Linked DNA regions of Homo sapiens. The protein of the gene in region 4 interacts with the protein of the main gene of each other region in a biochemical or structural test. Each region holds a gene or a part of one and is shown on either strand. Other genes may lie near its edges. The genes, in order: MNAT1, UBR5, CCNT2 and SUPT5H.

Evidence for each region.
Region 1: of the proteins of SUPT5H (region 4) and MNAT1, one has a biochemical effect on the other in vitro, tested with the Homo sapiens proteins (one study listed by BioGRID).
Region 2: of the proteins of SUPT5H (region 4) and UBR5, one has a biochemical effect on the other in vitro, tested with the Homo sapiens proteins (one study listed by BioGRID).
Region 3: of the proteins of SUPT5H (region 4) and CCNT2, one has a biochemical effect on the other in vitro, tested with the Homo sapiens proteins (one study listed by BioGRID).

Annotation. Positions count from the first base shown.
Region 1 is NC_000014.9:60,807,739-60,814,766, forward strand, and holds part of MNAT1 (CDK-activating kinase assembly factor MAT1), read left to right. Parts: intron 1-586; coding exon 587-690; intron 691-4,248; coding exon 4,249-4,389; intron 4,390-7,028.
Region 2 is NC_000008.11:102,402,695-102,409,722, forward strand, and holds part of UBR5 (E3 ubiquitin-protein ligase UBR5), read right to left. Parts: intron 1-7,028. UniProt on the Homo sapiens protein: E3 ubiquitin-protein ligase involved in different protein quality control pathways in the cytoplasm and nucleus. Mainly acts as a ubiquitin chain elongator that extends pre-ubiquitinated substrates.
Region 3 is NC_000002.12:134,949,794-134,956,821, reverse strand, and holds part of CCNT2 (cyclin-T2), read right to left. Parts: intron 4,182-7,028; coding exon 4,111-4,181; intron 3,593-4,110; coding exon 2,174-3,592; 3' UTR 1-2,173. UniProt on the Homo sapiens protein: Regulatory subunit of the cyclin-dependent kinase pair (CDK9/cyclin T) complex, also called positive transcription elongation factor B (P-TEFB), which is proposed to facilitate the transition from abortive to production elongation by phosphorylating the CTD (carboxy-terminal domain) of the large subunit of RNA polymerase II (RNAP II).
Region 4 is NC_000019.10:39,448,575-39,455,602, forward strand, and holds part of SUPT5H (transcription elongation factor SPT5), read left to right. Parts: intron 1-4,781; coding exon 4,782-4,947; intron 4,948-7,028. UniProt on the Homo sapiens protein: Component of the DRB sensitivity-inducing factor complex (DSIF complex), which regulates mRNA processing and transcription elongation by RNA polymerase II.

The DNA.
Region 1 (7,028 bases), on a different chromosome or scaffold from region 4:
AATTCTTTTACTTTAAGTTTTGGTGCCAGTTTATCCTTTATTTTTCTTCTTAAGTTCCAACTCCTTTATTTCATACGTTTCTAGAGCTAGACTACAAGGGAAGTAATTCAAGCCTGTGTCTACTCATGTTGGAGACAATTGGAATGGGGATAAAACCTGTTTTTTGTTTGATATAAATTATAAAAATATATGATTTTTTAACTCTTTTTTTAAAATTCTGATTCTTGTAGTAGATTCCAGACTTACTCTTTATATTAAAAAAATTTAAACAATTTTTTTATGCTTTTAAAGCTAGAGAGGGGACTATAAAAATCAGATCTAAGCACATATCTTAGGTTTTCTGGAGTGATCCTGACATTTAGGTATTTTGTGCGAGTCAGACAGTCTGTCCTTGTGTTTGGCTTGGAAAACATGTTTGCCGTAACTAGAGCTAGTCTCTAAAATAGGTAGCTGATTAAAAGGTCACAAATAGAGCTATAAAGAATGACAACCTAACAAATGAGTCACTGTGGTATTTGTTTTTTATTGTCTACTCAAGATTTATATTAAAAATATTTTTCATGTCATCGTTTCCTTTCTAATGCAGTTTTCAACTTGACCAACAATGTGGATTTGGACAACACCAAAAAGAAAATGGAGATATACCAAAAGGAAAACAAAGATGTTATTCAGAAAAATAAATTAAAGCTGGTCGGTTGCTAAGTATTTTCTTCTTATTTTGTCTTAGAAACAAATGTTTCCACATGATACTTTAAAAAGCCATCTTCCTTTAAACCAGTTACATTTATAGAAAATTTAGCTGAAATTTAGACCAGAAATATGAATATATGCTGTATAGGTATGTAGGTAGGCAGGCACACATTACTGTAGCAAAAACCACTTTGACAGCATTATGTTAGACTGTGCTTTCTTAAGGAAGTGGATCCGTAAGATAGGTGATTGTTAACGCTAGTTTTATCTGCCTGTATAATCTTCTGGTAAGTGAGCATTTGGACAGTGGTCACAAAACACTGGAGGCTCATTTTTATCCTTGGACATTAATTTCTCTAAAGGAGAGAGAAAACCCAGACAGACGGTGATGGAGCTACCAAGAGGGAGATAAAACAAAAACACTATTTATTAGAAACTAAAATGAATTCATGATTAGATCAGAGGAACACATTTGTAAACTAAGGTTAACTTTGGTTTCTCAATTAGTTACCTTTTTTGTTTTACCGAAAGAGTAACATTGCTAGATATAAATATGATTTTGGTTTGTTTTAGTTGATCTCATGTTGAAGTTTGTTTTGAAAATATCTCAGGAGTCATTATTATTATATGTATTAGAATGTATTCTATAAAGAAAAAATTGTATGCATGCAAAGGAGCAATTGTCTAATTTATACACTTTAGCTATCATTTCTATAGTACAGTTTGGCTTTCTAGTTGTAGGGGAAAGCAGAGGTAATTACGTTTGAGATACTTTATCAGGATTTTGTAATAATCAGTGAAAAGGATACAAGTATATTTGGATCACATAGCTTATATTTTCATTTTGTATTTAGAAGAGACTTCCTCCTTGTAGTCTTATAGTGTTTTATATCAGCATTTCTTTCCTGCTGTAAAACTCTCAATGAATTGATACTACATTTTCATTCCATTCATAGCTAGCCTAGCTTTCTTTTAAAAGTATCTTATTTCTGAGAGCATCAGTATGTCATTAATGTTACTCTCTTTGCCTAGTAACCTTCTCTGGGAACATCAGAAGATACATGCAAAATAGGTATGCGTAGGTAAAATGTTTCATTAACCCCAGGTGTTGGTATTACAGATGTGAGCCACCACTTTTATCATGAAAGGGCGTTACATTTTATCAAAGCCTTTTCCTGCATGTATTGATATGATTATGTGATTTTAATTCTTTATTTTGTTAATGTATATTAATTGATTTTGTATGTCAAACCATCTTTCCATCCCAAGGATAATTCCTGCTTGGTTATGTTGTATGATCCTTTTAATGTGCAGTTGGATTCAGTTTATAAGTATTTTGTTGAGAATTTTTGCATTTTTGTTCATCAGGGATATTGGCTCACAGTTTTCTTTCCTTGTGGTACCTTTGTCTGGTTTTAGTATCAGGGTAATAATGCTGGCTTCATAAAATGAGTTTGGAAGTGTCTCCCTCTTCAATTTTTTAGAAAGGTTTGAGAAGGATTGATATTAATTCTTCTTTAAATGTTTGGCAGAATTCACCACTGCCGCTTTTTCTCTGTTAGGAGGTGTGATTACTGATTCAGTGTCCATACTAGTTCTAGGTCTTTTCAGATTTCCTGTTTCTTCATAATTTGGTCTTGGTAGGTTGTATGTTTCTAGGAATTTGTCCATTTCTTCTAGATTAACTGAAGCGTAATATAATTAAGTGTTGGTGTATAATTGTTCATAGTAGTCTCTTATGATCCTTTTATTTCTGTGGCATCAGTTGTAATGTCTCCTCTTTCATTTCTGATTTTGAGTCTTCTCTCTCTTTCATAGTCTTGCAAAGAGTTTGTCAATTTTATATTTTGAAAAAACTTAATTTTGTTAATTTTTTCTGTTCTTTTTCTGTTTTCTATTTCATTTATTTTTGCTCTAATGTTTGTTATTTATTTTAATCCTTTGTTCTGCTTACTTTGAGCTCAGTTTGTTATTAAATTTCTAGCTCCTTGAGATGTAAAGCCAGGTTGTTATTTGAGATCTTTCTTCTCTTTTAAAGTAGGTGTTTATCACAAGAAACTTCCTTCTTAGTACTGCTTTTTTGTATCCCTCAAGTTTTGGTATGCTATGTTTTTGTTTTTGTTTGTCCTGAGGTATTTTCTAATTTCCTTTTTGATTTCTTCTTTGACCCAATGATTATTTGAGTGTATTGTTTAATTTTCACATATGTGCATATTTGTGAATTTTCCAGTTTTCCTTCTGCTATTGATTCCTGGTTTTATTCCATTGTGGTCAGGAAAGATACTTGGTATGATTTCAGTCTTCTTAAATTTGTTAAGACTTGTTTTGTGACCTAACTTGTGACCTATCCTGTAGAAAGTTCTGTGTGTGCTTGGGAAGATCGTGTATTCCGCTGCTGTTGAGTAGAATGTTCTGTATATTTCTGTTAGTTGTTATAACAGAAATATACAGAATTATAAAGTTGTTTAAGACTCCTATTTCCTTACTGATCTTCTTTCTGAAAGTTCCATCCATTACTGAATGTGAGTTAAGTCTCCTACTGTTACTATATTGCTGTCTATCTCTCCCTTCAGTTGTCAATGTTTGCTTTACATATTTAGTTGTTTATAATTGTTATATCTTTCTATATGTTGATCCTTTTATCATTATATAATGTTCTTTGTCTCTTTTGACAGTTTTTTAATTAAAGTCTATTTTGTCTCTTATTATGCTCTTTGTTTCAGTGAATGGTGCCAGCATTCATCCAAGTGTTCAATCCATATTTGGTCAGTCTTTATATTCTGTTGATGATCACTCCTTATCATTTTTAAGCCTCATCCCCACTCTAATTAGATTATTACTTTATTTAGGGCTCTTATTTCTATTCTTTCTTTTTTTTTTTTTTTTTTTTTTGAGATGGAACCTCGCCCTGTTGCCCAGGCTGGAGTGTAATGGTGTGAACTTGGCTCACTGCAACCTTCATTTCCTGGGTTCAAGCGATTCTCCTGCCTCAGCCTCCCGAGTAGCTGGGATTACAGGCATGTGCCACCATGCCTGACTAATTTTTTGTATCTTTAGTAGAGACAGGGTTTCACCATGTTGGCCAAGCTGGTCTCGAACTCCTGACCTTGTGATCCACCCGCCGTGGCCTCCCAAAGTGCTGGGATTACAGGTGTGAGCCGCTGCGTAGGGCTCTTATTTCTTATCTGGGTTATTTGAATATACTTCTAACTAGTCCTCCTATTGTCAGTCTTGAACCCAATTGATCTTTATGTATACCTTACTGCCTCTAGTCATCTTTCTAAACTCATCCCTCAAATTCCCTTAATATGTTCCCAGTGGCCTTAGTATAGCAAAATTCCACTAGTATGGTATAACAGAATAGTTGTTTTATTTAATAGTAACGTGTCTACATGAAATAAAGTAAATTCTATTTTCTTCAATATGGAATTGCTACATTATTAAATAATAAGTGACTAGTGTGTTTTATGCTTCCAATAAAGAAAGTATTAGAGTGTGGTATATGATTGCTCTTGGCTCCTAAATTTATTCCACGCCATATATAAATTTTTGTTTTAGACTCGAGAACAGGAAGAACTGGAAGAAGCTTTAGAAGTGGAACGACAGGAAAATGAACAAAGAAGATTATTTATACAAAAAGAAGAACAACTGCAGCAGATTCTAAAAAGGAAGAATAAGCAGGCTTTTTTAGATGAGCTGGTATGTATTAATGCTAATTGTGATTGTAAAAAACATTCTTCAGGATTTACCTTTCCTAGTAGGCTGGATGATGGCATTTAAAGGGCTTTTCCACAGTGTTTGTAATCTGGTTCACCTTTAGTTTTGTTGGTTATGTATTGATATCAGTGTATTTATTGCTGAATAAGAGGTTGCCCTCCATCCACACTGAACAATATGTTTTTATGCTCACAATTCTGTGGGTTAGGAATTTAAGTGGTTCTTTTGGGCTTTTCTGCTTCCCTAATGTATTCTCAGGACACCTCTCCATGTGGTTTTGATAGCGACAGGAGGCAGCCAAATGCCTAGGCAGATAGGGACGGGTACCCAGAGAAACCCCATCTCCATGTTGAAGACAGTTTAAAACCTGAAAGCCAAGCTACAAGTTAAATCCTTGGACCAGATTGAGAACTTGTCCTCCTGTTTGGTGTGCTTTCCTCTGATTGATCCCCACTCTTCACCTATTTTATGTATATCTACCCTTTCCTAATTGGTTTTCTACACTGTCATGCCCATCTTTGAGTAGTGTCTTCACTTCAACCTTTTTTGCTTACTCATAAGCTAATTCAGCACATTCTCCTCATCCTGTGCCTATAAAGACCCCAGACTCAGTAAGTAGAGGAAGAGACAACCTGACTTCGGGGAAGACGACTTGCTCTTCCTGTCCCCTCTCCAGCTCCCCTCTCTGCTAAGAGCTGTTTTCATCGCTCAATAAAATTATCACCTTCGCCATCTTTTAACCATCCCTGTGACCTCATTCTTCTTGGATGCCAGACAAGAGCTTGGGACCCACCAAGTGTGGGTACCCAGAAAGGCTGTCACACTGGCACTTTGCCCTTCCTGGTGGAGAGCAGCTGCCCTAGGTGACAAGGCCAGAAGCCAACTGAGCTGCCAACACACTGTTGTCTGATGGCAGAACTAAAGGAGCACTGTAACACTTCCCCTGGGGCTTTGGGGTTGTGGGCCCCCTCACCTGGGCACTGCCATGTTCCCCTTGAGGCAACATGCCTGGTCTGGCTGTGGGCCCCACGTAGAGTTTGCTTCTGTGTCCGTGCCTGGGGCGGATGGCTGGGTCCTGCACTTGCTTGCTTGTGTCTGGTCTGACTGCGGGCCCCATGCAAAACTTGTTCCTGTATTGGTGCTTGGAGCAGCTGGCTAGATCTGCGCTGACTCACCCACGTGCTCCCTCCCACATAGAGTTGAGTGCAGTGGGTCTAGTAGAGGGGAGTCCTTACCGTGAATCTAGTGAAGGGGCTGACTACATCAGAAACTGCATCAATTTCTGTAACAGTGTGATTGTACTTCTCACATGTTGGCTCAGGGTTACAAGAGAGAATATCCCAAGAATAAGGAGGTAGAAGATGCTAACATTTTAGGGCTTGGGCTAGGAAACTGGCACAGCACTGATTCCACCATATTAGTAAAAGAGCCCACTCAGTTACAAAGGGAATGGATATAGATCTCACCTCCTAATGGGAGTGTGATGGCCATCTTTAGTCCACACAGTATGTACTGGGGAAAACTATGTTTTTCTAGAATTTGGCATAATATAAATTCATTTGGGATACTCAGTCTCTATCCCAATGTGAGTTTAGTGATAAGAATTATGAAAATGACTTTCATTTTCATATTGTAGTTTGTCTTACCCTTATGCCTATTTATTTATATCATGCCAACTACTATGAAGGATTTAAAGTGATTTCCTAGATAAGAGTATTGTTTGTGGACATGGCACTACTTACTTTGTGTAACTCTAAGAACGATGTTAAAATGAGGTTCTAGTATATTTTACTTCTATATTTTTAAAAAGATTTTTGTTTAATATCCATTTTATTTTCAGATGAGAGAGTGACATTATAACTGAGATGAGCCAGTATATTCTTGATAGATTGTTTATATGGCTTTAAGCTAACTGACTAAAATACATTGTTTCTGAAGCACTTTTCTCCTGATTAATACTATTTTTCTAATAATGAGCTCATTTTGGCTCCATGCTGAAGTTTATATTGACTGTTTACTTTGTGACAATATATTTTATATTTTTGCATAAAAAAATAGTGTATTTTTGCTTGAAAGAAATAGCGGGGTTTTTGCAAATTATTGTTTTCCAGCAATTAGCTTCCTAGGTAGTCAACCTTGTTAGATAATGACAGTAATAATAACTAAGGTTTATGAAGTGTTTCATGGATTTATTACTATATTATTTGATACTTATAACCCTGTATGATATTGATGACTTCACAAACCGGAAAATCTTCCTCTCCAGGAAAGTCTTTTTGCATTCTTCTCTTTCCCTTTATGTTCATATAATTTATTTCCCTGAGGCTTTTGTGTTTGTGTGTGTGTGTGTGTATGCAGTGTTAATACACTTAACTTTCTTGTCTAGTTGATAATGCTATTATCCTATGATTGGGGAAAATATGTATATATGTGTTCTTCTACTGTGCTTTTGCCAAAAAAGCATTTAAGTCAGTTAACCAGGAGTAAAAAAAGAGAAAGCAAGATTACTTAAATTATAAGGAGGTGAGAAACTAAAGGAAAAATAAGGGTAAGGGCATTCATGAGGCTTAGATAGAAAACACTGTCATAAAACTCTATTTTCTATGACTGGAATGTGAATT
Region 2 (7,028 bases), on a different chromosome or scaffold from region 4:
TCTGGAGTTCCAGGTTGTCTGTGAGGTAGACCTGGTATCTGAATTCAAGTAAAGACCTGGAATACCTCATCGCCTGAATTCTGAACAGCAGATTCATGCTGGAGCAGAGCCAATTTCTTGAAACGGCAGGTTCTCGACACTTCTATATCACAGAAATGGAGCCTGAACTCATGGGGAAGAAAATAAAAACTTATCTACTGATCCATTCATCACAGTGCTTTGTCGACTAGCCACTATCATCATCTTTATAACTAGCAATCTAGAATACAACCATTACATTTAATGGAATTCTAAAATATAATCTTTTTACATATACTAGTATGTTTTTTAATTAACACAAAAATTTGCTGTCAAGAAAAATCTAGGTTTTTATTATCAGTGGACTTTTCCTATGAAAAACATTGTGATAAATTGAAGCCAAGAAAAACTTCAGGCCAGCCATGGTGTCTCCTGCCTGTAATCCCAGCATTTTGGGAGGCCAAGGTGGGAAGACAGCTTGAGGCCAGGAGTCTGAGACCAGCCTAGGCAACACAGCAAGACCATGTCTCTAATTTTAAAGAAATAAATAAGGCGAGGCACAGTGGTTCATGCCTGTAATCCCAGCACCTTGGAGAGGCTGAGACGGGATAATTGCTTGAGCCCAGGAGTTCGAGACCAGCCTGGGCAACACAGAGAGACTCCATCTCTACAAAAAATTAAAAATTAGCCAGATGTGGTAATGCAAGCCTGTAGTCCCAGATACTCAGGAGGCTGAGGCAGGAGGATCGCTTGAGCCCAGAAGGTCAAGGCTGCAGTGAGCCATGTTCACATCACTACACTCCAGCCTGGGCAATAGCGCAAGAGCCTGTCTCAAAAAAAATTAAAATAATAAATAAACAAGAAAAAAATAAAGACTAGAGAATAGCTAGAAAGAGTAAACTACCCAAATTTATATCAGCTAGAAAGCAGATTTAAAAACTGTGGTACAGTCATGAAATAAGTACTACTTTTTTTGTTTGTTTTGAGACAGAGTCTCACTCTGTTGCCCAGGCTGGAATTCAATGACACAATCTTGATTCACTGCAACCTCCACCTTCCCAGGTCAAGCAATGAAAATACTACTTTTAATATAAAAGAAGAAACTACTACATGCTGCAACACAGATCTGTTGCAAAAGCACTGTTCTAAGCAAAAGAAAACAGACACATGATTCCATTTCTATGAAATTCAAAAAGGAAAAGCATTACAGTGAGAGAAAGCAGAACAATGGTTGCTAGGTAGCCAGGACCTAGCCTAGGGGGAAGTGACTGAAAATACAAAGGGAAACCAGGTAACTTTTTGGGGTGATGAAAATGTCCTGTACCTGGATTGTGGTGGTGATTACACAACTGTACACATTTGCCGAAATTCATCAAACTGTACACCTAAAATGGGTTAATTTTACTGAATGTAAAGTATAACTCAATAAAGATGAAAGAGTCAAAGACATTTTATTAAGTGATACTGTCAGAAATTGAACAAATAACAGTACTTTAGCTGTGCAAGTAACATAAATTGTGTATTTACAAGTAAAATAACATTAAATATTAATACCTTCTTTAATATCCTGACAAAATGACAATGTTACAAAGCATGGTTATCTAAGAATTTATCGTATTTCTAATTTGGAAGGGGTTTTGTTACCACTACACTGATTGTCTCAAGAAAGTAATAAGAAATATGATCTCAGAGAATAATTTCTTATAGCCAAGTTCAATTGACTAATACCTCACCTGTCTATTAGTTCATGAAAATGCTGCAAACTTTTCACATGACAATCTTATTTCTCAAAGTGACCCCATGGAAAAATCACTGAATTTCAAGAATCCTGTCTTATCATCCTTATCTAACAATTACAAGTGACTGCTGACAAAAAATGCTGTCATACCGGAGGTTAAGAAGTTATAGCACTGAGGCCTGGCACAGTGGCTCACGCCTGTAATCCCAACACCCTGGGAGGCTAAGGCAGGTGAACACCTGAGGTCGGGAGTTCGAGACCAGCCTGACCAACATGGTCAAACCCCGTCTCCACTAAAAATACAAAATTAGCCAGGCGTGGTGGCTCACACCTATAATCTCAGCCACTTGGGAAGCTGAGGCAGGAGAATCACTTGAACCCGGGAGGCGGAAGTTGCAGTGAGCAGAGATCACGCCACTGCACTCGAGCCTGGGCAACAAGAGCGAAACTCCATCTCAAAAAAAAAAAAAAAAAAAAAAAGTTACAGCACTGAGCTTTAAGGAACTAAATAATTCCCCAGTGGCCCCTTCTTCTAAGGTTACAATCCAAATTCTAAGGTTATTCTACAAATGTCAAATTTTTTAACATGTTAGAACCCAATCAGCTTTATTAAGTAAAATTATCAAAATTGTCAATCAGAAATAAGCATTTATGAGACAACAGGAAAATCTGGGCAATTTTGTTATTAAGGTTTTTTCAGGTTTTTTTTTAAAGGCTTCATATTTTGAAATATATAGTGAAGATACAGCAATTAAATTACCTGATAGAGGAGAATAAATGGGGAGAGAGTTGAAATCAGATTGGCCATGAGTTGACAACTGTTAAGACTGTGTGATGGGAACATGGTTGTTCATCATACTATTCTCTCTACTCTTGTATATGCTTAAAATTTTCCAAAATAAAAGGCTTAAAAATAATACTCAGGGGAAAACTTAAAAACCAGTTCTAAAAATAAACCAACAATTCATAACCACAGTGAGCCAAGAGAAGAGGCTATTTTCACATGACCAGAATGCCAAGGAGTCAAAATGACAGAAACATGGATGCTAACTAGAGTCTGTTTTCTTAATTAGAAATATGTATAATATGGGCGAGCGCAGTGGCTCCCGCCTGTAATCCCAACACTTTGGGAGGCCTAGGTGGGCAGATCACGAGGTCAGGAGTTCAAGACCAGCGTGATCAACACGGTGAAACCCCATCTCTACTAAAAATACAAAAATTAGCCAGGTATGGTGGCGTGCGCCTGTACTCCCAGCTACTCAGGAGGCTGAGGCAGCAGAATCGCTTGAACCCGGGAGGCGGAGGTTGCAGTGAGCCAAGATTGTGCCAAAATGGCACCACTGCATTCCAGCGTGGGCAAGAGCGAGACTCAAAAAACAAAATAAATATGTATGATAAAATGAGGGAGGGGAGACATTAAGTACATCCTCCTGTAACATAAAATTGCTTCCTTTAATATACCTTATAAGATCTACGTCCATGTAACTCAGTCTTCAGCAATTAAATTTTCCTTTGGAAACTATTTCCTAAATAACCTAATGGTCTAATTGTTAGGGGAAAAAACCCTGACCTTTCCTAATTTCACCTATTATTCCTAGTCGTATTCCTGTGTATCCTGTAATTTTCTTCACAAGTGTCTGTTTATTCCTAGGCCTATGATTCAGTCACAGATATCCTGATTTATAAAATTGCTCTGCCTTTGTTTTGATTTTCTATTTTGCTTGGCTATTCTACACCCTGCTGTTAATCTTACTTAAGCAAATTCATTTAAACATTTTAGTTAGGCCAGACTGTACTTTTCCAATACAATAAATCTAGTATTGGTTTTTTATTGTTTGTTTTTGGTTTTGTTTTTGTTTTTGAGATGGAGTCTCGCTCTGTCACCCAAGCTGGAGTGCAGTGGCGCAATCTTGGCTCACTGCAACCTCCACCTCCCAGGTTCAAGCAATTCTCCTGCCTCAGCCTCTTGAGTAGCTGCAACTACAGGCATGCACCACCATGCCCAGCTAATTTTTGTATTTTTAGTAGAGATGGGGTTTCACCATGTTGGCCAGGCTGGTCTCAAACTTCTGACCTCAGATGATCCGCCCACCTCAGCCTCCCAAAGTGCTGGGATTACAGGCATGAGCCACCGCACCTGGCATAATGCATTTAGTATTGCTTTTAGGTAACAATCTCAATAATCAAATGGTGAGATTTTTCACTGATTTGGTAATATGATGCTCCATCCCACACAACCTAATGTCTGGGGGGTTTTTTTATTGATTTTTTTGTTTTTTTGTTTTTTGGTGCACCACAATAAAATTTCAAGCAGCTTTCAACTATTATAACCTCTACTCACCACAACCTTTGTTATGCTTCATATAATCCCTGGCATATTTTCTGGCTCCTACTGAGTGAAGATATGCCTGAGTCTTTAAAACCTCAAAGTTCTTAATAAACATAATGAGCACTCACTGAATGCCAAGACTTGTGCAAAAACACACTTTCTATGCCAACACTATCCAAGAGAACTTTCAGTGATGATGGCACTGCTCTGTATTTGCACTGTCCAATGTGGTAGTGAGTAGCTACGTGGCACTACAGTGCACTTAAAATGTGACTAGCTACAGATGAAGTGACTTAAATTTTTATTTAATTTTAATCAATCTTAATTAATTTTTTTTTCCTTTTTTTTGAGACAGAGTCTTGCTCTGTCGCCCAGGCTGGAGTGCAGTGGCGCGATCTTGGCTCACTGCAACCTCTGCCTCACGGGCTCAAGCTCTGTCTCACAGGCACAAGCAATTCTCCTGCCTCAACCTCTTGAGTAGCTGGGATTACAGGCGTCCACCACCACACCCAGCTAATTTTTGTATTTTTAGTAGAGATGGGGTTTCACCATGTTGGCCAGGCTAAGGGGTCTCGAACTCCTGACCTCAAGTGATTCGCCCGCCTCAGCCACCCAAAGTGCTGGGATTACAGGCATGAGCCACTGGCCGGGCCTTAATCTTAATTTAAACAGTCATGTTTTAAAAATTAAGAATATATATTGCGGCCAGGTACATTGGCTCATGCCTGTAATCCCAGCATTTTGGTAGGCTGAGGCAGATGGATCACCTGAGGTTAGGTTCAAGAGCAGCCTAGCCAACATGACGAAACCCCATCTCTACTAAAAATACAAAAATTAGCCAGACATAGTGGTATGCGTCTGTAACTTGGGAGGCTGAGGAAGGAGAATCGCTTGAACCCAGGAGGTGGACGTTGCATTGAGCCGAGATCCGGCCACTGCCTCCAGCCTAGGAGACAAAGCAAAACTGTGTCTCAAAAAAGAAAAAAAAAAAGAACGTATATTGCTTGAAATATTCTTCATAAAAGTCATTTTCACTTATTTTTACAACCAAATGCATTGAAGATCATCTAGGATGGGCTTCCTTAACCTTAGCACAACTGACATTTTGGACCCCGTAATTCTTTGTTGTGGGGGCTATCCTATGCATTATAGGATGTTTAGCAGCATCTCTGGCCTCCATCCACTAGAGGCCAGTAGCAATGCCCCAGCTGTGACAATAAAAAATGTCTCCAGACACTGCCCAATAAGGGGAGGGGGTTGTGTGTGGAGGGTGCAAAATCACACCAAGCTGAGAAGTACTAATCTAGAACTAAGAGTCGATTCTGCTCTGAATGCTAAGGATATTCTAGGGCAACTCTTTTGAGTTCCTGCTTTGCTATCTGGAAACCAGGCAACACGTAAAAAGTTAAAAGTAACCATCTCTTCGTAATGTTTTCCGTAGAATCCACATTATAATATTGATCTTTTCCCATCTACTGTCTCAACTGTTCCTCCCTGACCTTGAGGAGAGTGCTACACCTAATTCAGAGATTGATGTGGGGGGTTCTAAGAGGTTAAATGACTAGGCTACCAGCGCAGAGTTTGAAACTCCTGTCTATAGTATCTTACCTTGTGTTATGACACCTGAAAGGGAAACTCTAAGCTTAGAGAAAAATCCTTTTGATATGACAATCTCAATAAAGACTGTTTATGACTGCACAATACGTTGTAATGCCAAAAGGCAAATCTCACAGGAAAATTCCACATACAGACAAGCAATAAGAACTGGTTTGTTTCGTAACTAACCTGCATCTTGAGGAATAATTCAGGACAAGGACAATAAATGCCATAACCACATCACCTTAAGAAGACCTATCCTAACCTAGTACCAAGAAAAGGTTAAGAGCGTCAGCCTCTGAAAAAAAGGCATAAACCCATTAGGAGCCCTGGAAAGAGCAGTTGAGGGGAAAACGGAATCAAAACACTAAGACAGGTGGCCACACTGCCTGAAGGCTGGGATGTCTGAGACAGCAGAACCATTCTGGAATACAAGCCACGTGAAGTGGAATGGAGCCCTGGACTTTAAAGAAAAGTCAGAAGACCCATCAGGTGGACCTCAGCTGTCTCTCAGTAGTTGTATCCCTGCATAAACACTGTAAATCTCTGTGCCTATTTTTTCAGCTCATTAGTGAGGCACTTTCCAGGCTATTAGTGAGGCAGGCCTTTCAGCTCTCCCCTCAAGCTCGACGAACCACATTCTTTATATTGTTTTACTGTTTCTCTGAGACAATGTTTTAAGCAGGAACGTAGTACTAACTCAAGAAATCCATTGGAAAGGAGATCAAAATGTCCAAAGTATCTGAGCACTGAATGGTTTCAATTCAGCTCAATGAATATTTGCTTGAGGGCCCAGCATTCTGTGCCAGGCACCTTGTAATCATTCTGGGAAGTCACAGCCAACATCCTCTTCTTTCCACCCCAGCCATCCCCACCTGTATTTGTCAATTTCATCCTGGCATCATTATTATTCATTATTGGCAAGTCTGAAAACACAAATTATGAAAAAAAGATACTTTTTTATGCTTTGTACATTTTAGACACTTGAGACATCAGACTATGATGCTGAACAAAATATTTGACTTTTTAAGAGGATGTGGGTAAAGAAAGAAAACGTATTTGAAGAAAACACTACTGTTTTGAGGACCAAGTTTTCTTCAGCTGAGCAATTTATTTGCAGTACCATTCTGCCTGTCTAATCTTACTACTTTTATTCCAAAGTATAAAGTCTATTTACACCCTTTTCATACATAACTATGATTATCATTTTATTTGTGACTCTCATACATTTCTCATAATAAAAAAAGTCAAGCTACAGTAGCAGTAGCTTTTTTATTGCCCCAACTTACTAAAACTTGGTAAAGTTTTTATCTTTAGATGAAAATACGCTTATTCTAGTTAATTAAA
Region 3 (7,028 bases), on a different chromosome or scaffold from region 4:
ATTCACACATCTCAAAACAATTCTGCAAATTCTTAGTGAAGTTTAACTATAGTCACAGACCTTAAATATTCACATTGTTTTCTATGTCTACTGAAAATAAGTTCACTACTTTTCTGGATATTCTTTACAAAATCTTATTAAAATTCCTGGTATTATCACCCCCAATTATACAGTAGCACAACCACCTTATGTAGTTTTTACATGATAGCTCTGTAGAGGTTTCACATCTAAATTACCAAGAAAGCCCTTCCCTCCCTCATCTTGCACTCAGCTTAATTCTATACTAGTCCTTGGATTATGTACCACTGTAAAAGTATAACTGTATCAAAATTACCATGTTTATGGATACAATATTATGCCATACAGAGCAACAAAGTTACATATAATGACAAAGATTACTGAAGTTATGCAAGACCAGAACAAATGTTAGGACATGCTACCTAGGCACAGTCCCTACAAAGAGGCTCCTAAGTACCCCAAGTTCAAATAACATTGACAAAATAATGAACAATTATCTTTAAAAATTATAAAGCTACTGGCAAATTAGGTAATTGCTAAATAAAGGTAGAGCATGAGATTAAACTCTAATATTTACAACTGCAACATACTTAATTACAATTGTGCACGTATCAGTGGCTTTGTAACAAAAATACAGAGAAAAAATTAAGTTTTCAGTTCAACAAGAGGTCGAATCCAATCAATCTCAAATATACTCAACAACTCAAAAGATTTACCACAGAATAAATTCAAGATTAGCTGATAAACAAGAGCCATATTACTGGTGTTTAAGACAAAATCTAAACAAGTTAAAATCTAATGCTTGATCAGAAGTCAGATGACTGTGCAAACTTTACCTCAACAGAAATATACTGAGATGTGCAAACAAATGTAAAACCTCCACTACTGGTTTGCCTGGGAGGCTGACCTTTTCTTTCTTACAGAGCTTCCTGATAACCATAAACTATAAATACAGGTACAATGCACAGTCAGTAATCTTTTCTTTTTTATTTATTGTTAGAATATAAAAGAATTGAGAGCATAGGTTTAATTTCATTTTTATAAGGAAGACTACATTTACCTGAAAAAGAAATATGGCATCACACACAAACACGCTTCAGGGAAGGAGTATATTTAAGAATATGGTGTCATTCTGAATGCTAAAGGAAAAGTGATCCCTGTTTACTATTAAAATATGTAGTGTAAAATTCTTTAAAGGAAACAACTCACTAAATCTCTACTAGGTAAGTTATTGTGAATTTAGTTTTCAAATCACAGTAATCCACATAACCATTATTAACAGCTCTGTTTCATAGAACTGCAACAAGCCAACAAACATTTAAATGCACTTCACATCAAGAGTATGTAAACTTTATTTTTTCCTCTTCAAGCCTTCAGAAAGTTAGGGGCTATTTCAGCAGCCAATCTGGTCAGAACCTCTGAAGGCAAAATTTCAGTGCCTCACAGTGTATATGACCATCTGTTGCACTGCACACATCTGGTAGTGAAGTGTCCCCTATCAGTGGCTTCCAGTAAGGCCTAGAGTTTAAGGTTAACATAAAAAAGTGCCACCTTTGTTTTAGATTAGTGATGGACTCTGACAAGATAAAATAAAGTTATTCTGTATATTGTTATACTTACAAGCAGCTCCAATCCTGAGTATTTACGGTAATATCTAAACATACAAAAATGTATGTACATTTTTCTCCACTTTCTTGTAAACAGTTGTCAGTATACTGTTTTATCCCTTTATCATTGAAACATGCAAATCATACATACAAGTATAAATACACAAAAGAAAACAATTTACACTCATTCAAAAGCCAAGCAACAAAAAATAGCTACAGTATTCAAATCATAAATAATGAATGCTTGAGGCATCTTATATTCCTAGAAGCAGCCAGCCATTCATCCTAATGTTCTTAGCTGCAATTGTAGAAATACTGAGTTTTGCACCTTCCATGCTTTTACAGTATTTATAACACTATCATATGTGGAGATAAAGACTTGTTTACTATAATCTCTTCTTTTCAGAATGAAGAATAAAGCAGCACTTACAAATATTGAAGCAGTGGCAGCAACAGCAGGGGTTACCACTGCTAGATCAGAAGGAATTTTTCCATTCTAACAATTTTTAAATTAAAAAAGTAAAGGAAAAATTGACCTAAACAAATTATTACATGTTCATTCCTTGGGCACTTAACAGTGAGTCCAGCATGTCGAATGTGTCTTTGTAGTCCATATGCTGGCTGCTTGTACTGTACTCGTGATTGGCATCAGGACCGTTGGTCTCCACTGGCTTCTTGTCCAGTTTCACGAGGGTGCTGAGATGTCCGTAGCCCACCTGGTATGTGACAGGGGGAGGAGGGGGTAAGGGATGGTTAAAAACAGAGTTGTGAGAGGATATATACTGCTTAACAGAGGAGGAAGAACTAGATGAACTACCTGAACTTTTGGAACTTTTGCTCATTTTGGAGTGGTGGTTGTGAGATGCATCATTGACATGCAGCCTCTTCCTTGAAGAGCTGGAGCTAGAGGAAATGCCATCACTGCTCAGGCCAACAGGACTCCTCAGAACAGTGGGTGGTATTCCGTCGGCACTGTGTTTACTGCCACCGCTGCTGCTGCCACTATGCGAGTGGGAATGCTTGTGGCTGCTGGTGTGGTGGCGGCTTGAAGGATGCTCCTTGTGCTTCTCCTTATGGTCTCTGCTAATATGTGGGCTTGAATGTTTGCTCTTCCCACTGCCTTCATCAGAAGAGCTGTGTCTTTCTGAAGAAGAAACTTTTATTTTCATTTTCAGTTCTTCTTTACTGGCGCTTTTATCAGTGGGTGGTATTGGAATCCGTAATTTCAGTGACCCACTCTTTTCCTTTTTGTCTGCCATGTATTTTTCAGTATTTGCGATAGGTATTTTCATTTTAATGGGAGAAGTAACAGAACTGCTGCTGGCTGCCTGTGACTGCCCTTGTTTGTGCTGCTGTTCTACCTGGGCAGCTATATAATGATCCCTTACATCGAGATCAAGAGTTTCTAGTTTACGCTTTTCTCTATATTTATCTAAAGACATTTTCTGAGGAATTATTCCTGGAGTAGTGGAAATTGGCCCATGGTGTTTACTGCTCCCTGCTTTATGAGTATATTCTTGCTTAACAGAAGAATGATCTGAAATTTTGTCAGGTCTGTGATGTAATCCTGAATGCAGTGATATAGAAGGTCCCTGCTGGAAGTTGATGTTGTACTGGCTACCAGACAAAGATGTCTCCTGTTTCTGTGAATATAGCTGTTCTGTCCTTGCTGAGTCTTGATGTTGAGGCCATTCCTGGTGTGATGATAAACCGTATGAAGTACTTGGCATTCCTGTTGCTAGCATTGACAAATTATCAGATGTATGGCTGTCTTGAACAGAAATATTTCCTGAATTTAGAGGTACTGGCGCAGGGAATGCTGATGTAGATGGTTTCTGAAAACTTGGGTTTGTAGGCACACCAGTGACACTATCTACTAAAATGGAATTCTGGACCAAAGATGAACCAAGAAGTGGTGTCTCTGATACCTGTCCATCTACTTTTGGTTTCCTAGCTGCCTGATTAGCCTATTAAAATAAAACACAGAAGAAGCAGTGATATAGCAAAATAATTTAATGCAAATTTCTTGTCTTATAAAAGTTATATATTAAAAACATTATATATTAAACATATGGAAATAAAATGACCTGGGGTTCAAGATTTTATGTTGTCAGTAAATAAATGCCTTAGAGGCATAAAAGGCTATAAAAAATTGAAAACACCCATTTTAGAATCAGATACAAGTTAAATCCTAGCCCAGCACTTCAGAAAGTAATTTAACTTGTCTAGGCTTCAGTTTCCCCATTTGTAAAATGAAGAGGATACTTTTGTCATAATCACTGCAAAAAATTTTTTAAAAGTATAATGTACTTTAGCAAAGTCCACTGGACTCAGTAGTTGAATATGTGAGTATATGTAACTTGAGATACGTTGAATTATTCAGGAATACTGCAAAGATTATTTAACCACAAAAATTCAAACTGGTTAGCTATGTAAATGTTACATAAAAGACTGAAATTCTGTTAAACCCTGTCAATTCTCTTACCCTCCAGTTTCGAATCTTCTTCAACCTATTAGGCGTTTTCTCCAATATTTGTAGAAACTCATGTGTTAGCTCTAAAAATAAAATTTAAATTTGAAACTTAGAAGGTGCCTTTAGGATTTAAATTTCTCTTAAGTGGGCAGTATTAAAAAGGAATGCTAGGAGTTCATCTACTTCACTTTTACCCTCCTATTAAATCCTCAGCATACACAGAAGTACACACAACTCTCAACCGGCATTTTCAAAGCTGAATCCTTTTGTAACGATTACTTTCCCTCTTGATTTTACTTGCTTAATTAGAATCTCTAGAAAATCTAGTAGCATTAAAAATAATCACCCCCCCAATAAAAAAAAAATCTTCATTAGGCAAACACCACAATAATTTTTGTCACAGACAAGATCTATCAAAAGATTCTTTAAAATTAGTGGACAAAAGTTTGAGGAAAAACGTTATTTGTATAATCCCAACGTATCTTCCCCATGAAATGTATTAATTACAAAGAGAAAAAAAATAGTGACTTTAAAGTGCAGAAACCACTTTAAGGATACCACTGTAACCAAGTGATCACGGTTGTCATGACCAGTTATAAGACGTATCAACATACTGTACCCCTTGATATGATGCACCAAGCAAGACCCAATTTACTTCTATGGTATTCTTGCTCAAAATGGATAACTTCGACATAATAATGAGAAATCATCAGACAAACCCCAACTAAGGAACACTGTATAAAATGACCATTATTCTCCTAAGTGTCAGTGTTATGAAAGACAAGGAAAGATTGGAGAACTGTCACAGACTGGAGAAGACTTGAAGGGACATGTCAACTAAATGGAACATGGGATCCTAGAATAGGGAAAAATATGGAATACTGAATAACATCTGTGGTTTAGTTAACAGTATTGTACCAATGTTAACTTCCTAGTTTTGATAATCATATATTGTTATGTAAGATGTTAGTACCAGGAGAAGCTAAAGGGTATACAGGGAACTATGCAATATTTTGCATTTCTTTCTTTCTTTTTTTTGTTAAATAACAGAGACAGGGTCTCGCTATGTTGACCAGGCTGGTCTCAAACTCCTGGCCTCAAGTGATCCTCCTATCTTGGCCTCCCAAAGTGCTGGAATTACAGGTGTGAGCCACCACACCCAGACTTTTTTTTTAAAGGGGAAAATTCCTCCAAATATACTTCCTAGCTATCAACACTATTAATATATTAGCAAACTATCTTCATTGTAAATTTCTACCAACTTTCTTAAAATTCTGATTACAATCAAATGACCCACTTTTCCAAAGTAGTGTGGTTTTGATGAACTAATAATGTCATTAATAGTTACTAGCCACTCTCAAATATTCATCAGTCAAATACATCAGAATATTATATAATATTAATAATGCCAATTCCACCTCAATACTGGGGGAACCTCTATTAATAGAGACTACAGGTTCATTTTGTAATAGCAAGCTTTTTTGTAAACTATTCTAAGCCAATGTTAAGATCGACACTTCAGACAAGCTATAATTTAACCATTAATCTTTCAAGATGTAATTTCCTTGACAATGTCATGACTAGTCCCTGCTAAAGTCTCATGAGCTTTTTCATCCAGTTTGGATGAAAAAAACCCTAATGCCCAGACCTTTACTTCCTCATTTGAAAAAAAAAGAAAAAAAAAAAGACTATTTTTCTACTTTTGGGTCCAACATTAACAAAACTGTTTTGACTCAATTTCTGTTAACAACTTGGTTGTAAAACATTAAATACACTTCAAGTTCTGGTCCAAAATCTCGTACACAAAATGTAAGCTTTGTTTTTCTTAAGTATCCTACTGTATTAAATTTTATAGCAGAACAACAAAAGAATCTGTTAAATAATCCATTAACATAATTAATTAGCTATATGCACAAAAATCACAGTATGTGCCTAAAATAGAGGCCCTTCTCTCTCAAAGCTACTGTCTAAGCCAATGTTCTTTTCTGGAACACAATCATTAAGTGAATTATTTCAGTAAGTAATAAGAATAGTAGTATCACTTCACTCTACAATTCAGATAAATCTTCATGTCTTTTTTTTTCCCCCCAGACAGGGTTTCCTCTGTTGCCCAGGCTGGAGAGCAGTAGCATTATCACAGCTCACTACAACCTTGACGTCTCAGGCTCAGGTGATCCTCCCACCTTAGCCTCCACAGTAGTTGGGTCTATAGGAGTGCGCCACCATGCCCGGTTTGTGTGTATTTTTAGTAGAAACGTGGTTTTGCCATGTTGCTCAGGCTGGGCTCAAACTCCTGTGCTCAAGATATGTGAGTGACTGCACCCGGCCACACCTTCATGTCTTTAATTTTGAATTGCCTTTTTGTGACTGACACAGAAAAAAAAGCTGCTGCAAAACATGGTGAAAGTCTTAACATATCAGTTCTCCAAGATTCCTATTCAATTGCTCTCCAAATTAACAAACTTTACTTTTCAGAATGGAAATGAGGTAGCTCCTCCTGTGTCAAAAAACCCCACATAAACCACAACCTAACCTCTGACCTAAAGACAGGATAAAAGGCAGATTACTTTTCTGTGATCTTTTTACTTCAGCACCAGGTATATAAACTATTTTTATTACGATTATGCCTACTGGCTGGGTGTGGTGGTTCACGCCTGTAATCCTAACACTTTGAGGCCAAGGTGGGTGGATCATGAGGTCAGGAGTTCAAGACCAGCCTGGCCAACATGGTGAAAACCCTATCTCTACTAAAAATACAAAAATTAGCCAGGCGTGGTGGCAGGCACCTGTAATCCCAGCTACTCAGGAGGCTGAGGCAGAGAACTGCTTGAACCCGGGAGGCGGAGGGTGCAGCGAGCCGAGATTGCGCCACCGCACTCTATAGCCTGGGCGACTGAGACTCTGTCCCCCACCCCCCCCCCGAAAAAAAA
Region 4 (7,028 bases):
GCTGGCTCCTCTTCAGTTACCAGGTGAGGCAAGAGGGCACTGTGAGGCCTGTCCCCACTGCCAGGGACAGGATTGGATGGCCTTTTCAGACAGCCAAATGATGACATGGTCCTTGAAGGACAGGGTTCTGTGGCTAGACAGGTAGGGATGGCAAATAATGAGCTACTTTTGAGGGGAGCTGCTGGTTCACCCATCATGGCTCCAGTAACCTGTTCATTTATTCATTCAACAAATGTTCTGGCTGGGTGTGGTGGCTCACGCCTGTGATCCCAGCACTTTGGGAGGCTGAGGTGGGTGGATCACGAGGTCAGGAGATTGAGACCATCCTGGCTAACATGGTGAAACCCCGTCTCTACTAAAAATACAAAAAATTAGCGTGGTGGTGGGTGCCTGTAGTCCCTGCTACTTGGGAGGCTGAGGCAGGAGAATGGCGTGAACGCAGGAGACAGAGCTTGCAGTGAGCAGAGATCGCACCATTGCACTCCAGCCTGGGAGACAGAGCGAGACTGCATCTCAAAAAACAAAAAACAAAAAACAAATGTTCCTTGACTTGGCATGTTGGGGTCACAGTCTCCCTTACAGAGATCTCAGTCTCAAGGCAGAGGCAGTTTTATAGATACACAGTTACTGCAGGGGATGTTGAGGACGGTGAGAGCACATCCAAGCCCTGAGGTGAGCAGAGAGTGGTGGGGGCATCCTCCACTGGGAGGGAGGAGCCAGGTTTGGAAAGAGGCATCTCTGGGACCTGTCAGAGGGGAACTGATGACAAGGTTCCTAGAAATCAGCCTGTGGTCCTGTCATAGTTTGGGTTGTTAAAATGTGCTTCATCGTGGGCTAGTCGAGATTTGTGTTAAGCAAATATTTCTGAAGTCTTCTGTGCTTGGCCTTGGGCTGGGTGATGTTGGGGGACCCAGCAGTGCCTGAGATGGACTGGGCCCTACTATTGGGAGGCTCACAGTGGTCAGGGCTGTGATGGAGGGAGCCCAGAGAATTGTGAGCATAGAGGATGTGCCTGACTCTGCCTGGGGGAGAGGGGGCGGGGATGGCTGCCTGGAGGAGGAAGGTTAGTTTGGTTTTTTTTTTTTGTCTTGGTGTCTTGCTCTGTCACCCAGGCTGGAGTGCAGTGGCACGATCTCAGCTCACTGCAGCCTCCACCTCACGGTCAAGCAGTTCTCCTCTCTCAGCTTCCTGAGTAGCTGGGATTACAGCGGTGCGCCACCACACCTGGCTGATTTTTATATTTTTGGTAGAGATGGGGTTTCACCATGTTGGCCAGGGTGGTCTCAGAACTCCTGACCTCAAGTGATCGCCTACCTCGGCCTCCCAAAGTGCTGGGATTACAGGCATGAGCCACCACGCTAAGCCTTTTTTTTTTTTTTTTGAGACAGGGTCTCACTTTGTCACCCATGCTGGGGTGCAGTGGTGTGATCTCGACTCACTGCAGCCTCAGCCTCCTGAGGATCAAGCAATCCTCCTGCTTCAGCCTCCCAATGAACTGGGACAACAAGATTTTGCCACCATGCCTGGTTAAGTTTTGTATTTTTGGTAGAGACAGGGCTTTGTCAGATTGTCCAGGCTGGTGTCAAACTCCTGGGCTCAAGTGATCCTTCTACCTTGGCCTCCCAAAGTGTTGGGATTACAGGTGTGAGCCCCCATGCCTAGCTAAGGAGGGAATATTTTCGTTGAAGTGTGAATGGGAGGCACAGTTTTTTTTTTTTGGAGATGAAGTCTCACTCTGTCGCCCAGGCTGGAGTGTAGTGGCACAATCGCGGCTCACTGCAACCTCTTCCTTCTGGGTTTAAGTGATTCTCCTGCCTCAGCCTCCTGAATAGCTGGGATTACAGGCGCATGCCACTGCGCCCAGGCCCAGAGGGGACTTTTTATACAGAAAACCAGCATGGATGATGGCCAGCACTGAGAGAGTATGGTCCAAGTAGTTGAGTGCAGCTGAGGCCTAGTGTTGGGGAGGCAGTCCTGAATGGTGGGGAACGGGGAGAGGCAGCAGGCAGAGCATGTGCTTCTAGTTCAGGCTGGCTGAAGCTGAGCAGGGGAACAAATGGTCAGGTTCATGTTTTAGATTACAGTTTTCTAAGACTGTACCATATATTCTAGGTTGGGGATGATGAAAGGTGCTTTTAGGTGGAATAAGGACAAGACCTTAAGCTACATTGAATCATTTAGTGAGAATATTTCCTTTTCAGTTGTGTGTCTTATCTTGATTGGGTCATGAGAAAGTTTCATCTTAGTGCTACTGTGTCTTGAACGCCTCTGGGTGGGAGAACAGGCCTTAGGCTTAGAGCCTGCAGCAGGCAGCAGTATCTTGCTGGGTCTTAATAACATTGTTTTGCTTTTATCTTTATAGTTACCTTGTGTTTATGACAAACCTTCAAAAAGTTTTAAATTTTGAAACATTGCATAATATAAAAATGTTTTTATTTAAGAAGGTGAGTAGATTTGAAGAAAATACACATTGAGTATTATCTAAAATGCTTGGGACAAGAAGTGTTTCAGATTTTGGATTTTTTTTTTTTTGATTTTGTAATATTTGCTGTGGAGCGTTCCCTAATCTGAAAATCCAGAATGCTCCAGTGAACATTTACTTTGAGCATGACCTTTTTTTTTTTTTTTTTTTGAGACAGAGTCTTGCTGTGTCGCCTAGGCTGGAGTGCAGTGGTGCGATCTTGGCTCACTGCAACCTGTGCCTCCCAGGTTCAAACAATCCTCCTGCCTCAGCCTCCCAAGTAGTTGGGACTACAGGCGTGCCACCATGCCTGGCTAGGTTTTTTTTTTTTTGTATTTTTAGTAGAGATGGGGTTTCACTATGTTGGCCAGGCTGGTCTTGAACTCCTGACCTCAGGTGATCCGCGCGAGCCACCGCGCCCAGCCTGAGCATGACCTTTGAGCATTATGTCAGTGCTGAAAAAGTTTCAGATTTTGAAGCCTTTCAGATTTCAGTTTTTTGTTTGTTTGTTTTTTTGACAGTGTCTTGGTCCATTGGCCAGGCTGGAGTGCAGTGGTACAATCTCGGCTGAGTGCAACCTTCACCTCCCAGTTTCAAGCGATTCTCCTACCTCAGCCTCCTGAGTAGCTGGGAGTACAGGTGCCCACCACCGTGCTGGGCTAGCTTTTGTATTTTTAGTAAAGACGGGGTTTCACCACATTGGCTAGGCGGGTCTTGTACTCCTGATGTCAGGTGATCCACCCGCTTTGGCCTCCTAAAGTGTTGGGATTACAGGCATGAGCCACTGCACCTGACCAGATTTCAGATTTTTGGATTAGGGATGTTCAACCTGTATTAGGTAAATGGATTGTAGTAATGACATGGAAGAAGTCGTGAAGTTCATGAGTTAAAGACTGAAGTTTGGTATGCATCCATTAATGTTGTTTCTGGTATGGAAAGAGGGATTAGAGGCCAGGAGAGTAGGGAGGAGGCTGGGGTAAGGATCCAGGTGTTAGAGGGCAGTGTCCTGGCCTAGGCTCAGATATATGGGGCTGGGGGAAAAGGATGGGTTGGAGAAATGATGTTTACAGGCAGAAAGGATGAGGATTTGGTGCCTGTCGGTAATTGGAGGAGGCCATCACAGGTCTAGGGGAAGACACTGAGGTCAGTTTGGGACACAGTGAGTATGAAAGGGCTCAGAGGCCATCTAGGGGAGGCATCCAGGATGCTGCTGGTGCATGGAGGTCTTGAGTTCTGGAAAAAAGTGGGACTCTATAGACAGATGAGGACACGTGTCATCTCTAGAGACAGGAACTGAGGTCATGGAAAGTAAAATGGACAGGGAGAGAGGGCATGGAGGGAGAACAAAGTGGCCCTGGACTGAGCCCTGGTAATTGATGTCAGATTTGAAGGGGTTAACAGTAAGAGGAGCTTGAAGAGGAGCTGGTGGAGTTTTGAGAAAAACCAGGAGAGCATGATACGGCAGAAGCCAAGAGAGGAGCATTTCTCCAGGGAGGGCATGGTTGGGGTGCCAGATGCTGCTGGGATGGTAGGGAATACAGAATGGCCACAGAATTAGCAACAGGGGTGGCCAGTGATCTTCGTGAGCAGTGTGGACTAGAAACAGAGATGGGAGTCACTGTCACAGAGATGTCCACCACCGCCAAGGGAGAGGACGAGATGGCCTTGGGGAGTTGTAGAATGGGAAGAGATGGGCCAGGTGCTGTGGCTCACACCTGTAATCCCAGCATTTTCGGAGGCAGAGGCGGATGGATCACCTGAGGTCAAGAGTTCGAGACCAGCCTGGCCAACATGGTGAAGCCACGTGTCTACTAAAAAAATACAAAAATTAGCCAGGTGTGGTGGCGCACACCTGTAATCTCAGCTACTCAGGAGGCTGAGGCAAGAGAATTGCTTGAACCCAGGAGGTGGAGGTTGCAGTGAGCCAAGATTCTGCCATGGCACTCTAGCCTGGGAGACAGAGTGGGACTCTGTCTCAAAAAAAAAAAAAAAAAGAGAGAGAAAGAAATGAGGCCCAAGGACCAAGCTTCATCAAGCTATTATAGTTAAAGACTCGGTGGAAAGTGAGCAAGAGGTCTAGTGCAGGGAGAAGCCCGGGTCAACTCCCAGGGTTGCTTGGGTGGCTGGGGAGATGGCAGTGCTGTCGCTGAGATAGGATGGTAACCAGAGAGGCCAGGCTAGAGTGAAAGGGATATATGCAGAGCAAAGTGGGCTATGATTGGCCAGGCCAATCTGAGGTCAGATTTAGGGTGAGGAACTTGGTTTTTGGATTTTTGGGGTAGCAGAATTCTGGTGCTACAACCCTGCCTGACCCCTGTAGGTAGACGAAGAGCGGCGGAGTGCAGCGGGCAGTGAGAAAGAAGAAGAGCCTGAGGACGAAGAGGAGGAGGAAGAGGAGGAGGAATACGATGAGGAAGAGGAGGAAGAAGATGATGACCGACCCCCCAAGAAACCCCGCCATGGAGGCTTCATTCTGGACGAGGCTGGTATGTCATAGTGCTTGGCCAGTGCCGAGCAGAGGCTGAGCTTCTACTTTTAGTTCCATTTCTTTTTCTTTTTTTGAGGCGGAGTCTCGCTCTGTCGCCCAGGCTGGAGTGCAGTAGCATGAACTTGGCTCACTGCAAGTTCATGCCATTCTCCTGCCTCAGCCTCCTGAATAGCTGGGACTACAGGCGCCCGCCACCACGCCCGGCTAATTTTTTCTATTTTTTAGTGGAGACGGGGTTTCACCTTGTTAGCCAGGGTGGTCTCAATCTCCTGACCTCGTGATCTGCCCGCCTTGGCCTCCCAAAATGCTGGGATTACAGGCGTGAAGGACCAAAGTTCTTAACTTTTCTCGTGCTACGGCCCCTTCTGTAGTCTGGTGAAACCCTGTTCCCTTCTCAGAATCATCTTCTGAAATGCATAAAACAAAATACATAGGATTCCAAAGAGGACAATTTATTGAAGTACAGTTATCAGAATATTTAAAAAGAACATTTTGGTGCATATGTTTCTTTGTTAACATATTTAGGTAATAAGACTTTGTAGGTAGTCTGAGAATCTAATTTTCAAGTAGCAGTGAGTGTAAATGCTGCCTTGAGATACCTATAGCTGTAATGTGCTGTGAAAGAGCCAGTGACACAGCTAACATTGTGTGGTTTGTTGCCATTGTATGTAATTGATGTAAATGCTAAATTTCAATTCCAGGTTACTGAAAATAGGAGCTGTAGTTTTTTCATCGAACACAGACCACCCCAGATGAAAAATCTCTGTTCTACGTGTTAAATCCCTGTTAGTCAAATTGCTAGGTAAAGGTGGTGCATTTTGTTGTTGTCGTTGTTTTTTTTTTTTTTTTTGAGACGGAGTCTCGCTCAGGCTGGAGTGCAGTGGTGCGATGGCTCACTGCAACCTCTCCCTCCTGGGTTCAACTGTTTCTCCTGCCTCAGCCTCCTGAGTAGCTGGGACTACGGGCACGTGCCACCATGCCTGGCTAATTTTTTATATTTTTAGTAGAGACAGGGTTTCACTGTGTTAGGATGGTCTCGAACTCCTGACCTTGTGATCCGCCCGCCCTGGCCTCCCAAAGTGCTGAGATTACGGGCGTGAGCCACCATGCCTGGCCGCACTTTTTTTAAAAAAAGATTTTTTATATTTACGGCCAAATATCAGTTCCTAAAAAGATAAGACTAGTTCATACTTCCATGATGATAATGAATGTGCATGTTTTCCCTTACCTATGGGAAGAGGGGTTACTTAGAACACATCCTGCCTCTGTTTTCCTGGGACTGTTTTACCTGAGAAGAAAAGTAGTTTATTGTCAAAGGGACAGGAGGTGCTCTGGATGTTCTTGGAGAGCAAGAGAATGGATACCATGCTGGGTAAAAGCTGTGGGTTCCCAGGGACACCCATATGTTGGTGGTGGAAGTGTTGGTGGGCACTGCCTGTGTGGAAGGCTGTGTGGCAGTGCCTGTTAGCATTTAACATGCAGGAACCCTTTGACCAAGCAGTTCCTCTTTAGAATTTACTTTATGGTTAAACTTGCATGAGTGCATGAAGACCTGAGAACAAAGATGCTTGTTGTAGTCCTGTTCGCAGTTGCAAAAGTTTGGTGACCTAAATGTTTATTGATGATTAGGGCCTGGTTAAACAAATTATGGGCCATATAGTATATGAGGCATGTGCTGCTGTGGGAGAGCTCTGAGTTAGTAGTAGTTTTGAGAAAAAGAAAGGTACAGAACGGTGTGTTAAAAAAATTACGTGGGGGCTGGGCGTGGTGGCTCATGCTTGTAATCCCAGCACTTTAGGAGGCTGAGGCGGGTGGATCATCTGAGGTTAGGAGTTCGAGACCAGCCTGGCCAAGATGGCGAAACCCTGTCTCTACTAAAAATACAAAAATTAGCTGGGCGTGGTGGCGGGCGCCTGTAATCCCAGCTACTTGGGAGGCTGAGGCAGGAGAATTGCTTGAACCCGGGAGGTGGAGGTTGCAGTGAGCCGAGATTGCTGCACTCTAGCTTGGGTGACAGAGCAAGACTCGGTCTAAACAAAAAAAATTACATGGGGGGAACATAGTGGTGGCGGGGTGGAT